Linked DNA regions of Homo sapiens. The protein of the gene in region 2 interacts with the protein of the main gene of each other region in a pairwise test. Each region holds a gene or a part of one and is shown on either strand. Other genes may lie near its edges. The genes, in order: ACY1 and NUDT1.

Region 1 (3,455 bases), on a different chromosome or scaffold from region 2:
AAGCCCAGTTCCTGGGCCTCTGCACACACAGATCCAGGGTGCTGAGGCCTCTAAGATGAACTGACCTAGTCTACCAGGGACCCTGCCCCTCTGTGGCCCCTGCTGCCAACACAAGGGTGTACAGGTTTTGACAGGAGCCAGCAGTCACCGTTGGCCCTCTGCCTGCCCCTCATCTAGCAGGGGCCCAGCTGGTGCTATTCTGGTACTGTCTCAGGATCCCAGATGTACACCCAGGAAGATGGGAGTGGTTCCTGAGGTCCTTAGTATCCCTCTTTAATGGGAATGGAATCCCTGATAGGTCAGAACTAAGTATGGTGGCCACTCAAATAGGAACTGTGGCCCTTTCTTGCTAGGCACAGACATGGCTGGATGGTACTGAATGGGTGTGCTGTGTCAAGGGGCACAGAGCAGTGTGGGGTAGTGGGGAAGTGCTAACAGCCAGGCTCAGTTTCCTCATCTGTGAAATGGAGATGGTAACATGTCCCCAGGAAAAGGAAAATTCTTGCTCCACGAGTGTCCTTGTGTTAGTACTTCAGAGACAGCCCTGTCCATAGACTTTATTATTTGGAAGGGGGAAGAGGAGGTCCTTGGCACTGGTTGGGATGGAAGCCCCAGGGGCAAAGGTTTAGGAGTTCCAGGGCTCAGCTGTCACTGGGCAGGGCAGGCACACTGGCAAGGGCAGGCAGCAGGCGTGTATATATGTCCACCCCACGGAGGAACACAGCCTCATGCAGCCGTTCATCGTGGTCGTGCAGCAGCACAGGTGTGCGGTTCATGGGTGAGAAGCCTAGAGCTGGGACCCCCACCTGCAGGGGTGAGGAAGAGCCGTTAGGGAAAAGCCAGCACTCAGGCCCAGTCCACTGCCCAGGCACTATATGCAAGTGGCTCACCGCGCGGATATAGCGGTTGTCAGTGGCAGCAGGCATGATCTCAGGCTCCAGAGTGAGGTTCCTGTAGGAGAAAGAGCCTGATGAATGGGGAGGGAGAAAGCGAAGAATTGAAGGGGCAAAGGAAGGTGGGAAAGAGGTGGGAGAAGGAGGGAGAAGGGAGGGGGCAGCAGGAAGGAGAGGAGTAGGGGGCTGGGCTGTGAGGAGAGCTGGCCAGCGTGCTCACATATCCTTGCAGACCCGGCTAAAAGCTGCCCACCAAGGGTTTGAGTCATCAGTAGGTGTCACTTGGGGGTGCATCCACTTCTGAGGGACAGGAAGAATGGCAGGATCAGGACATGGGCCTGGGCATCTTGCCCTATTTCCCATAGAGTGGGCTGTGCCTAGTACATAACACCTCCCCACCCCCACTCCTTCACCTACCCAGACATCTGGGTAGCCAGTCCAGCCACAGGTCCTCTTTCAGCCCCTCAAATGTCCTAGGTCTGGGACCTTCCCACCCTCCGTCTACTTACCTCCTGTCCATCCTTCAGATCCTAGCCCAAGTGCCCCTTCCTCAAGATGGCTCCCCCAGACCTCTCAGACTAGTTGGATACTCCAGTTACAGGTTTTCAGAGTGCAAGGGGCCACCCTTTCCTGTACCACATGGGTTATATGAAAGTACGGCTGGGCGCAGTGGCTCATGCCTGTAATCCCAGCATTTTGCGAGGCCAAGGTGGGTGGATCACTTGAGGCCAGGAGTTCGAGACAAGCCTGGCCAACATGGTGAAACACTGTCTCTACTAAAAATGCAAAAATTAGCTGGGCGTGGTGGCAGGTGCCTGTAATCCCAACTACTCTGGAGGCTGAGGCACAAGAATTGCTTGAACCCGGGAGGCGGAGGTGAGCCGAGATTGTGCCACTGCACTGCAGCCTGGGTGACGGAGTGAGATTCTCTCAGAAAAAAGTAATATCACATAAATGTTTGATTTATATCTCCCCGTTTCACCATACAAGGGCATGAACTGTGCCTAATTTTACTCCCCACAGCATTCCCCAGCACCCACAGTGGCCTCTACAATGAATGCTTGTTGGAATAAAATGTGTCTGTCACAGATAAAGAAATGCCCAGACATATGCAGACACACCAAGCACACACTCCACTGTTGCACACTTGGGTCTCCCCCGGCTCCCACACTCTCCCATCACATGTCCCAAGTCCATACCTGAGCAAACTCTAGGGTGACCCCCTCGCCAGCTGCCTGGCACCAGCTCTGCAGCTGCTCCTCAAAAGCCTAAGAGAAGGGAGACGAGCTGATCCTTCAGGCTTTCCAGAGGCCTCTAGGACAAGACTGAGGACCCAGGATCCCTCCTCCAAACCCAGGTGGAGGTGGCACCTTGAAGTCCACATCCGGTGCCACACGGAAGTCAAAGCTGGCGCTCATGGTGGCAGGTATCACGTTATAGGCCACGCCACCCTCTAGCTTAGTCAGGTTCACGGAGGTCACGGACCCCTCTTTCAGGTGGGGGTTTGACTGCAGCCTGTGGTGTGGGGGCAGGGTAGCGGCAGCAACAGATAAAAGAGGTGGCTCAGACTCTATCCTCTGTGGTACCGCCTCCCAGAGCCACCCCACTGCCTCCCAGGCTGCCTCACCTCTGCCATTCCTTCTCCCGGAATGCCAGGATGGAGTTTACAACCTTGTGCTATGAGAATATGAGGTTAAATGGGACAGTGGCCTCAGGATAGAGCCTCCTGAACTCCCAGACTCCCTCCTGGGGTGCCACGTACCAGCTTCTCTGCTGCTGTGTCCTCCATGAAGCGTGAGGCATGGCCTGGCCTCCCAGTGCTGGTAACCCGCACCCCTGGGGAGGTGTAGGGGGAAGGCAGTGTCTTCAGCCTGAGGGGCTGGAGACACAATCAGCCTGGGGTGGGCCCAGGTCTCCCCCTCATTCCAGGCTCCTCTGGCAGGGTCCTGTCCCCACTCAGGGCCCGTAGCATACAGCTGGTTTCTGCCCATTCAGGGCTTGCCCTCAGAGAAGCTCAGATAGGAAAGAGCTGGGAGGTAGAGGCCCTGGGTTCAAGGCCTTCTCAGGCCTCAACTTTGCTGTGCAACCCTGCATAGGACCGTGCCCTTTCTGGCCTAGCCTCCCGCCTGTAGAGTGAGCCCTCCCTCCAAGCTCATACTTACACCAGGGACTCCGCTCACTATAAAAGACAGTGAAGGCATCAGTGGGATTGGCTATGCCTGAGGAGGGAAAGGGGGTTCAGAGGGTGGAGCAGCTCAGTCCCCACTAGCAGCCTCCTACTCCCTGCCTGGCTGCTCATTGGCTTGCCAACCTGCTCACCCTCATCCAGGGCAAAGCCTGCCCTCAGGGCGTGGAACTCAGGCCGCTGCACGAACAGCTCCATGCCTTGGTGACCCCCAACCTCCTCATCTGTAAAAGCAGCAGGGACGTGAGATGAGGAGGCTGCCCCGCCCCACCCTCCCCTTTCCCAAAGGTATCTGAGCCACTCCTACCAGGCACAAAGGTCATGTGGATGGTTCTGGGGAACCGGTGGCCCTCCACCTTCAGCCTCCTCACAGCTTC
Region 2 (6,712 bases):
CACATCCCCAGCTTGTGGCACTGAGCATGTGTGTCTCTGCCCTGGGCCAGCTGCCCACCTCGGGGACAGAGTCTCCATCCTCTCCCACCTCTGTGCAGCAGTGCGGGCTGAAGCCCAGCACATCTGGTAGCTTCCTGTGGACGGGACCTGGCAGGCTGTGCTGGTGTCTGGAGAAGAACGTTTGAAAGGTTAGAGACCGGCCGGGTGCAGTGGCTCACGCCTGGAATCCCAGCACTTTGGGAGGCTGAGGCAGGTGGATCACCTGAGGTCAGGAGTTCAAGACCAGCCTGGTCAACATGGTGAAACCCCATCTCTACTAAACAGACAAATATTAGTTGGGTGTGGCAATGTGCGCCTGTAATCCCACCTCTTCGGGAGGCTGAGATGGGAGGATCGCTTGAACCTGGGAGGCGGAGGTTGACGTGAGCCGAGATCGTGCCATTGCACTCCAGCCTGGGCAACAGAGAGAGACTCCATCTCCAAAAAAAAAAAAAAAAAACCACCGCTAGATAGCTTTATTTTCCCTTCCATCCAGTTAATTCCAGATGAAACCCGGCTCTGCGCCACTCAATGCCCCCAGGTGAAGATGGTTTGCGGCTGTTCAGCAGCCACGTCTCCTGCCCAGGGGCTGCCCTGGGCTCCCGCTAGACCGTGTCCACCTCGCGGAGTGTGTAGTCCAGGATGGTGTCCTGACCCTGGAACTTGAAGTACCCGTGGAATTTCTTCTTCTGAAGCAGGAGTGGAAACCAGTAGCTGTCGTCGGGCCACATGTCCTTGAAGGGGATCTGATCCAGCTGGAACCAGCATGGGCGCATTTCTGTACCAATGGGGGAAGAGGAGGCACTGAGGTGCAACCCAAACTTCATGCTTAAAAAACATGTTTTTTTTGGCCGGGCGCGGTGGCTCACGCCTGTAATCCCAGCACTTTGGGAGGCCGAGGCGGGAGGATCACGAGGTCAGGAGATCGAGACCATCCTGGCTAACACGGTGAAACCCCGTCTCTACTAAAAATACAAAAAAATTAGCCGGGCGTGGTGGCGGGCGCCTGTAGTCCCAGCTACTTGGGAGGCTGAGGCAGGAGAATGGTGTGAACCTGGGAGGTGGAGCTTGCAGTGAGCCGAGATTGCGCCATTGCCCTCCAGCCTGGGCGACAGAGCGAGACTTCGTCTCAAAACAACAACAGCAACAACAACAAAACCATGTTTTTTTGTAGAGATGGGGTCTCACTGTGTTGCCCAGACTGGTCTTGAACTCCTGGGCTCAACGATCCTCCTGCCTCGGCCTCCCACAGTCCACAGTGCTGGGATTACAGGGGTGAGCCACTGCGTCTGGCCAGCCCAAACGTACACTGACTCTCTGAGGAGTTCACTGAGTGATCGTGAGGAACCTGACGATCGTTTATATTTCATCCTCATTACCGTGTTTCTCATTTTAGGGTGGGCGCAGAGCAGGGGCAGGTACGCTACTGGAGCCTCGGTGCAGAGACCACGGCTCATGGGCCCCACGCTGGCACTGTGGGGTGGAGGGGGACGCAGGCTGCCCGGTCCCTGGCACTCAGAGATGGTTTGGGCGGATGGCCTTTCTCCCAGCCAGGAGATGGGACCCGCATAGTGGGGAGGGGGAGCAGGCCCTGTGAGACTCACCGTCGCTCTCCACGGGGGTCCCCTGGATGCTGTCTGTGCAGAAGACATGCACGTCCATGAGCTCAGGCTCGCCCACGAACTCAAACACGATCTGGCCCACCTTGTGCAGGGCGTCCACTGTCAGACCGCTCTCCTCCTGCAGCTCCCTGCGGGCAGAGGTGGGCAGGGGAGGGAGGCCGTCAGGGCATGGTGCCATGCCCACACGATGGCAGGGAGGAGGAGCTGGGCATCTACACACAGCCCAGGGAGCCACCAGGGTGGATGGGAGACCCAGGAGGATGTCCCCTAGAATGCATTATCTGGTCCCGACCTGGCTGAGCTTCAGAATCAACTTGAACTTTGAAGACACTGATTTTGGTTGAGAGGCTCTGGGGAGGGGCCCGGAGATGGTGTGGAGCCTCTGGTGGGAGGAACGCAGTTCTAGCCCAGTGCCCTCTGTGTACCAGTGACAGCCCAGGCCCAGTGGAGTCCAGCCACTTGTCCACCGTCTCGAGACCCGCACGTGGCAGGGTTGGGACTGACCCCACTTCCTTCATTCCCGGTTACTTGCTTTTCCGCGGCTGAGCATCAGAGCCCATGCAGCGGTAGTTACGACCGCCGGGGCCCTGGGACGCTTGCTCTGGGAACCTGGGCCCTATACTCTGGGCCTGTCTGCCCAAAGAAATGTCTTTCCAGCCTGGTGCCTCTTCTCTGAGAACACAGGATGAAACCACAGGCTTCTATGATCTGTTTCCTGAAGGAGGAGCTCTGGTTTTAACTCTGGTCCCCAGGCTGACCACACGGGACACGTGGCCTGGGCCTCTTCCTGCGCCTTCTCGGGACATGCTCCCCACAGCTGTGCCTGGAGGAGGTGTAAGGGGCTGACTTCACCACGGGATGCCCAAGTGCTGCTGCGCCTGGGAACAAGCCCTTCCCTGCTTCGTGGCACACAGAGCCAGGTTTCCCCGAAGTAGTCTAACGCTGTTGCTAATTTAAAAATTACATATTTGTTATAGACAACCAGGAAACAAAACGCCATAAACTCATCACCCAGGAATGCTACCATTTCAGTGTTTTTCCTTTGGCTCTTTCTCCTCTGTTTTTCCCTTAAGAAATGCAAACATTAACCCTTAATAGCTTAAAGTTAAAAAATAAAAATGCAAACAGGTTGGGTGCAGGGTGGCTCATGCCTGTAATCCCAGCATTTTTGGAGGCCAAGGTGGGAGGATTGATTGCTTGAGCTCCGGAGTTTGAGACCAGCTTGGGCAATATGGCAAAACCCTGTTTCTACAAAAAGGACAGAAATTAGCTGGGCATGGTGGCACTCGCCTGTAGTCCCAGCTCCTCAGGAGACTGAGATGGGAGGAATGCTTGAGCCCAGGAGTTGGAGGCTGCAGTGAGCTGGGATTACTCCACTGCACTCCAGCCTGGGCAACCGAGCTAGACCCTGTCTTAAAAAAAAAAAAAAAAAAAAAAGCAAACATCATACACACTTTATACCTCGGGCTTTCCACGCAAGAAAGGAGGAGTGCATGACATTCCACACCTCAAGGAACCCAGCCGCCTTCTCAACTCCTGTTTGGTATGGAAGAATAAAACGTTCCAACTTCGGGTTATGGTGGAAACCCGTGTTGGGCACAGCGGTGCTGCTGACCTCCCGTTCTGAGCGTTTGCTTGCTGTGCTCAGTCGGGTTCTTGCTCAGTCCCTCAGCAGACACTTCTGAACACCCACTCTGTGCTGGGACCCTGGGGATGCACGGGCTGCAGCCGCTGGGCACCTCAGTCTCCTCCTCTTACCATGCCCGGCTAATTTTTCTGTGTGTGTGTTTTTCTGTAGAGACAGGGTCTTGCTATGTTGCCCAGGCTGGTCCTGAACTCCTGGGCTCAAGCGATCCTTCTGCTTTGGCCTCCCAAAGTGCTGGGATTTCAGGTGTGAGCCACCATGCCTGGTCTAAATGGTCTGATTTAAGCGATGCCTCCTCAGCTTAAACTGCAGGGACTGGAGAGGAAACGGACCTGGAATCAGCATTTATTCATACAGATGGCTAATTAAAGTTGGGCTTGAGCTACAAAGTGAACGTGTGCTTCTACTTGGGTATAAATGGCTCCCCAGTTAGATGCAATAGAAGTGCTCAGTGGGGCCTCACCCGCCTCTTGGCGGCCGGCTGTTGCTCGTCTTAAAAAGCGTCACCTCCCAGTGGGATATTGTGACTGATTTTAGTTAATCTTCCCTAGCACATGGCAGCGTAGGAAGCATCAAGAATCCGCCGGGAGACAGAGCTGAAGCTCCATTTCCCAGGCAGGGAGCGCCAGGCAGGCGAAGATGACGCTGTTCAGTTCTGCCCAAGTGTCTGCTCTGTCCATGGCACTCGGTTCCCCAGGCGGAACACGGGGAACAGGGTGAGAAATACATGAAACAAAAACACAGGGTGGTGCAGCGTCCGTGGCGTGGGGAGGTGGGAGTCGGAGGTTCCGGCGGGCCTGCTTCCCATCGCTGCTCCTGTGTCCCCGGCCTCGCTAGTCTTTGGGGACCAGGGATGCTGTCTAGAAAGGTCGGCTCACACTGTGCGCCTGAAGCCCAAATCTGCACACCCCCACAATTCAGTACTCCCTACGTGCCTGTCCCCTGCCCCACAGAGGAGGGTCTGAGTCCAGCCCTCTGGACTGGGGTTAGGCGCTCAGGCCTGCCCCCTGCAGGCAAGCGGGGAGGGTGCCTAAACCGGCTCTTGGCCTGGGAGTTAGGGCCCATCTTGGGGTCCTCCTGATAGAATAGGACTGGGTATTGCGTGGATAAAGCAGGAACCAGCCTCCCCAGAGACCGGGCTGCCGACGCTCCTCCCTGCCTCCCGCTCCTGAGCAGCACGGGCCTGGGGTTGCCCCAGGAGCAAATCCATTCAGACTCGCAGGTACTGAAGCCCAGGGCCGTGCTGGTGGCCTGTGGCTGATGGTACGTCATCCCCTGAGGGCGAGGCTGTTTGCTGCTGGGTTCCCGGGGCCCTGGGACCCCTAAGCACCAGCCTGTCTGGCTCCAGTGTCCCCCATTCCTCATGCTTGCAGATGCTCCCCAACGAAGGATTTTTTTCTTTCTTTCTTTAAGACAGGGTCTCGGCTGGGCACGGTGGCTCACGCCTGTAATCACAGCACTTTGGGAAGCCGAGGCGGGTGGATCCCGTGAGGTCAGGTGTTCAAGACCAGCCTGGCCAACATGGTGAAACCCCCGTCTCCAGGTTACACCCGAGGATGGAAGTCACAGGCTTCCGGCTCTGTGCCTCAGTTCCCCCCCTCAAACCCTGGTCTGACAGCAAGCCACCACTGTATTCAGCTTTGAGGGTCTGGAGTGATGGTCCCTCTGTTTGTGTAATATTTACAGAGGGTAGGAGGAAAGTTCCTTCGACCGTGACAAAGTTCAGAAGAAAATAAAGCAGGGCTGCCGAGGGGGCCTGTGCTTTGCTTGTCACCAGCAGGACGAGAAGCGGAAATCCAGCCACCTGGAGTTCCTCCATCCAGCCTCCTCAGCACCGCTGCCTGCTCCACTCACACCCACCACTTCTCTGCACAGCTGGCGCTCCTCCAGCCCTCTGTGCTTCTGCAAATGTCTCCTTCCTCCCTCCTTCCACACTCTCCCAGCCAACGTCAGGCCCTCAGAGCATTTTCCTGGTGCCCAGTTATTCTCCCTTCCTTTCTCCTGGAGGCCCCTGGCCACGAGGTATGGACCAGACCTCCTTCTGCAGGTCTCCTGAACCCGGCAGCCAGATGACACGAGAGCTCCACAGAGGCAGGGACTGACCTGTTCCTCCTCATGTCCCCAGGCCCCACACAGAGCAGCGCTACAGAAATCCATGAGCTGATGGGCAGTCTTAGCAGATCAAAGACAAAGGGCTGGGCAGAGAACCCCCGGGGCCACCTTTCCTGTTTCCTGTGCTGTGGTCGCTCTGCACACACTCCTGGCAGGGACACGCTGTATGCCCGACTCACACCCAGTGGTCCTCCTCCCCAGCTGCGGCCCCCAGCACAGAGCCTGTCGCACTGGCACCTGCCACAGTGACTGATCGAACGTGTCCGTGTGGCTGCGGTCTGGGGTCCCAAGCCTTGGAGGGGAAGCACACACAGGGCTCTCCAAACTGAGGGTTGGGACCCATGTACCCCGGGAAATCGGCTTAGTGGATTGCAATTGAAAAAAAAAAAAGGGTCAAGCCAGTGGCCCACACCTGCAATCTCAGCACTCTGGGAGGCCCGGGAGGGAGGATCGCTTGAGCCTGGGAGTTAATGAGACACCATCTCTACAAAGAATTAAAAAACGAACTGAGCGTGGTGGCATGTGCCTGTGGTCCCAGCTGTTCGTGAGGCTGAGGCAGGAGGATCGTTTGAGCCCAAGAGTTTGAGGCTGCAGTGAGCCAAGAGTGTGCCATGGGTGAGATCCCACCTCTGGAGAAAAAAAGAGAAATGAATCGGAAAAGTAGAGCCCCCTTTTATGTAATAAGGGCGGCTACTGCAACTTACTTTAGCTGTACCTGCACACCTGAGTGTGTACACTCTATCAGAGTACAAAACGTATTTCTTACTGCAGGTTGTGATGAAAAAATTGGAAAGCCACTAGGCTGCAGCGTCCTGGCTTTCCTCCGTGCCAGGACCCTCTTTACTCTGTAGTTCTCCTCTCCAGGCAAGCTGGCCTACCTTTCTCAGAACAAAAACACGAACGGGGGCTAACGTCTGTGCAGCGATGTTTACACAGATGATCTCATTTACCCTGTGAGGGTTGAGGGGCGTCTGGAGGACTGTGTGATCTTGGGTAAACGGCTCAACCTCTCTGGGCTTCAGTTCCTTCCTAGGTGAAGCTGGCTGTGTTGAGGATGCAGTGAGGCTTTGTGCACAGCGAGTGTGAGATGAAAGCGATCATCAGCTCCACTGAACAGACAGAGGAACCAAGTGACTGACGAGCCCTTCGGCAACAGTGAGGGTGCTGGGAGGGTTCAATTCAAGCTGCTGCACAGAGGCTTCCAGATACGCCCTGCAGCCCCCAGCACCACCGCACCACAACAGCTAACACGCACTCAGCACGCACCGCACACCGCGCACCGTTCTAAGTCCTT

Evidence for each region.
Region 1: the proteins of NUDT1 (region 2) and ACY1 interact in binary tests that used the Homo sapiens proteins (3 or more experiments, as listed by UniProt).

What each region holds. Positions count from the first base shown.
Region 1 is NC_000003.12:51,986,262-51,989,716, reverse strand, and holds the end of ACY1 (aminoacylase-1), read right to left. Parts: coding exon 3,386-3,455; intron 3,303-3,385; coding exon 3,213-3,302; intron 3,113-3,212; coding exon 3,056-3,112; intron 2,730-3,055; coding exon 2,656-2,729; intron 2,571-2,655; coding exon 2,521-2,570; intron 2,409-2,520; coding exon 2,264-2,408; intron 2,162-2,263; coding exon 2,093-2,161; intron 1,194-2,092; coding exon 1,114-1,193; intron 952-1,113; coding exon 891-951; intron 807-890; coding exon 642-806; 3' UTR 520-641; downstream 1-519. Other genes in the region: ABHD14A-ACY1 readthrough (NMD candidate), read right to left, coding at 642-806, 891-951, 1,114-1,193, 2,093-2,161, 2,264-2,408, 2,521-2,570, 2,656-2,729, 3,056-3,112 and 2 more. UniProt on the Homo sapiens protein: Catalyzes the hydrolysis of N-acetylated amino acids to acetate and free amino acids.
Region 2 is NC_000007.14:2,244,934-2,251,645, reverse strand, and holds the end of NUDT1 (oxidized purine nucleoside triphosphate hydrolase), read right to left. Parts: intron 2,336-6,712; exon of another isoform or gene 1,954-2,335; intron 1,790-1,953; coding exon 1,644-1,789; intron 1,005-1,643; coding exon of another isoform or gene 949-1,004; exon of another isoform or gene 911-948; intron 818-910; coding exon 645-817; 3' UTR 501-644; downstream 1-500. UniProt on the Homo sapiens protein: Oxidized purine nucleoside triphosphate hydrolase which is a prominent sanitizer of the oxidized nucleotide pool. Catalyzes the hydrolysis of 2-oxo-dATP (2-hydroxy-dATP) into 2-oxo-dAMP.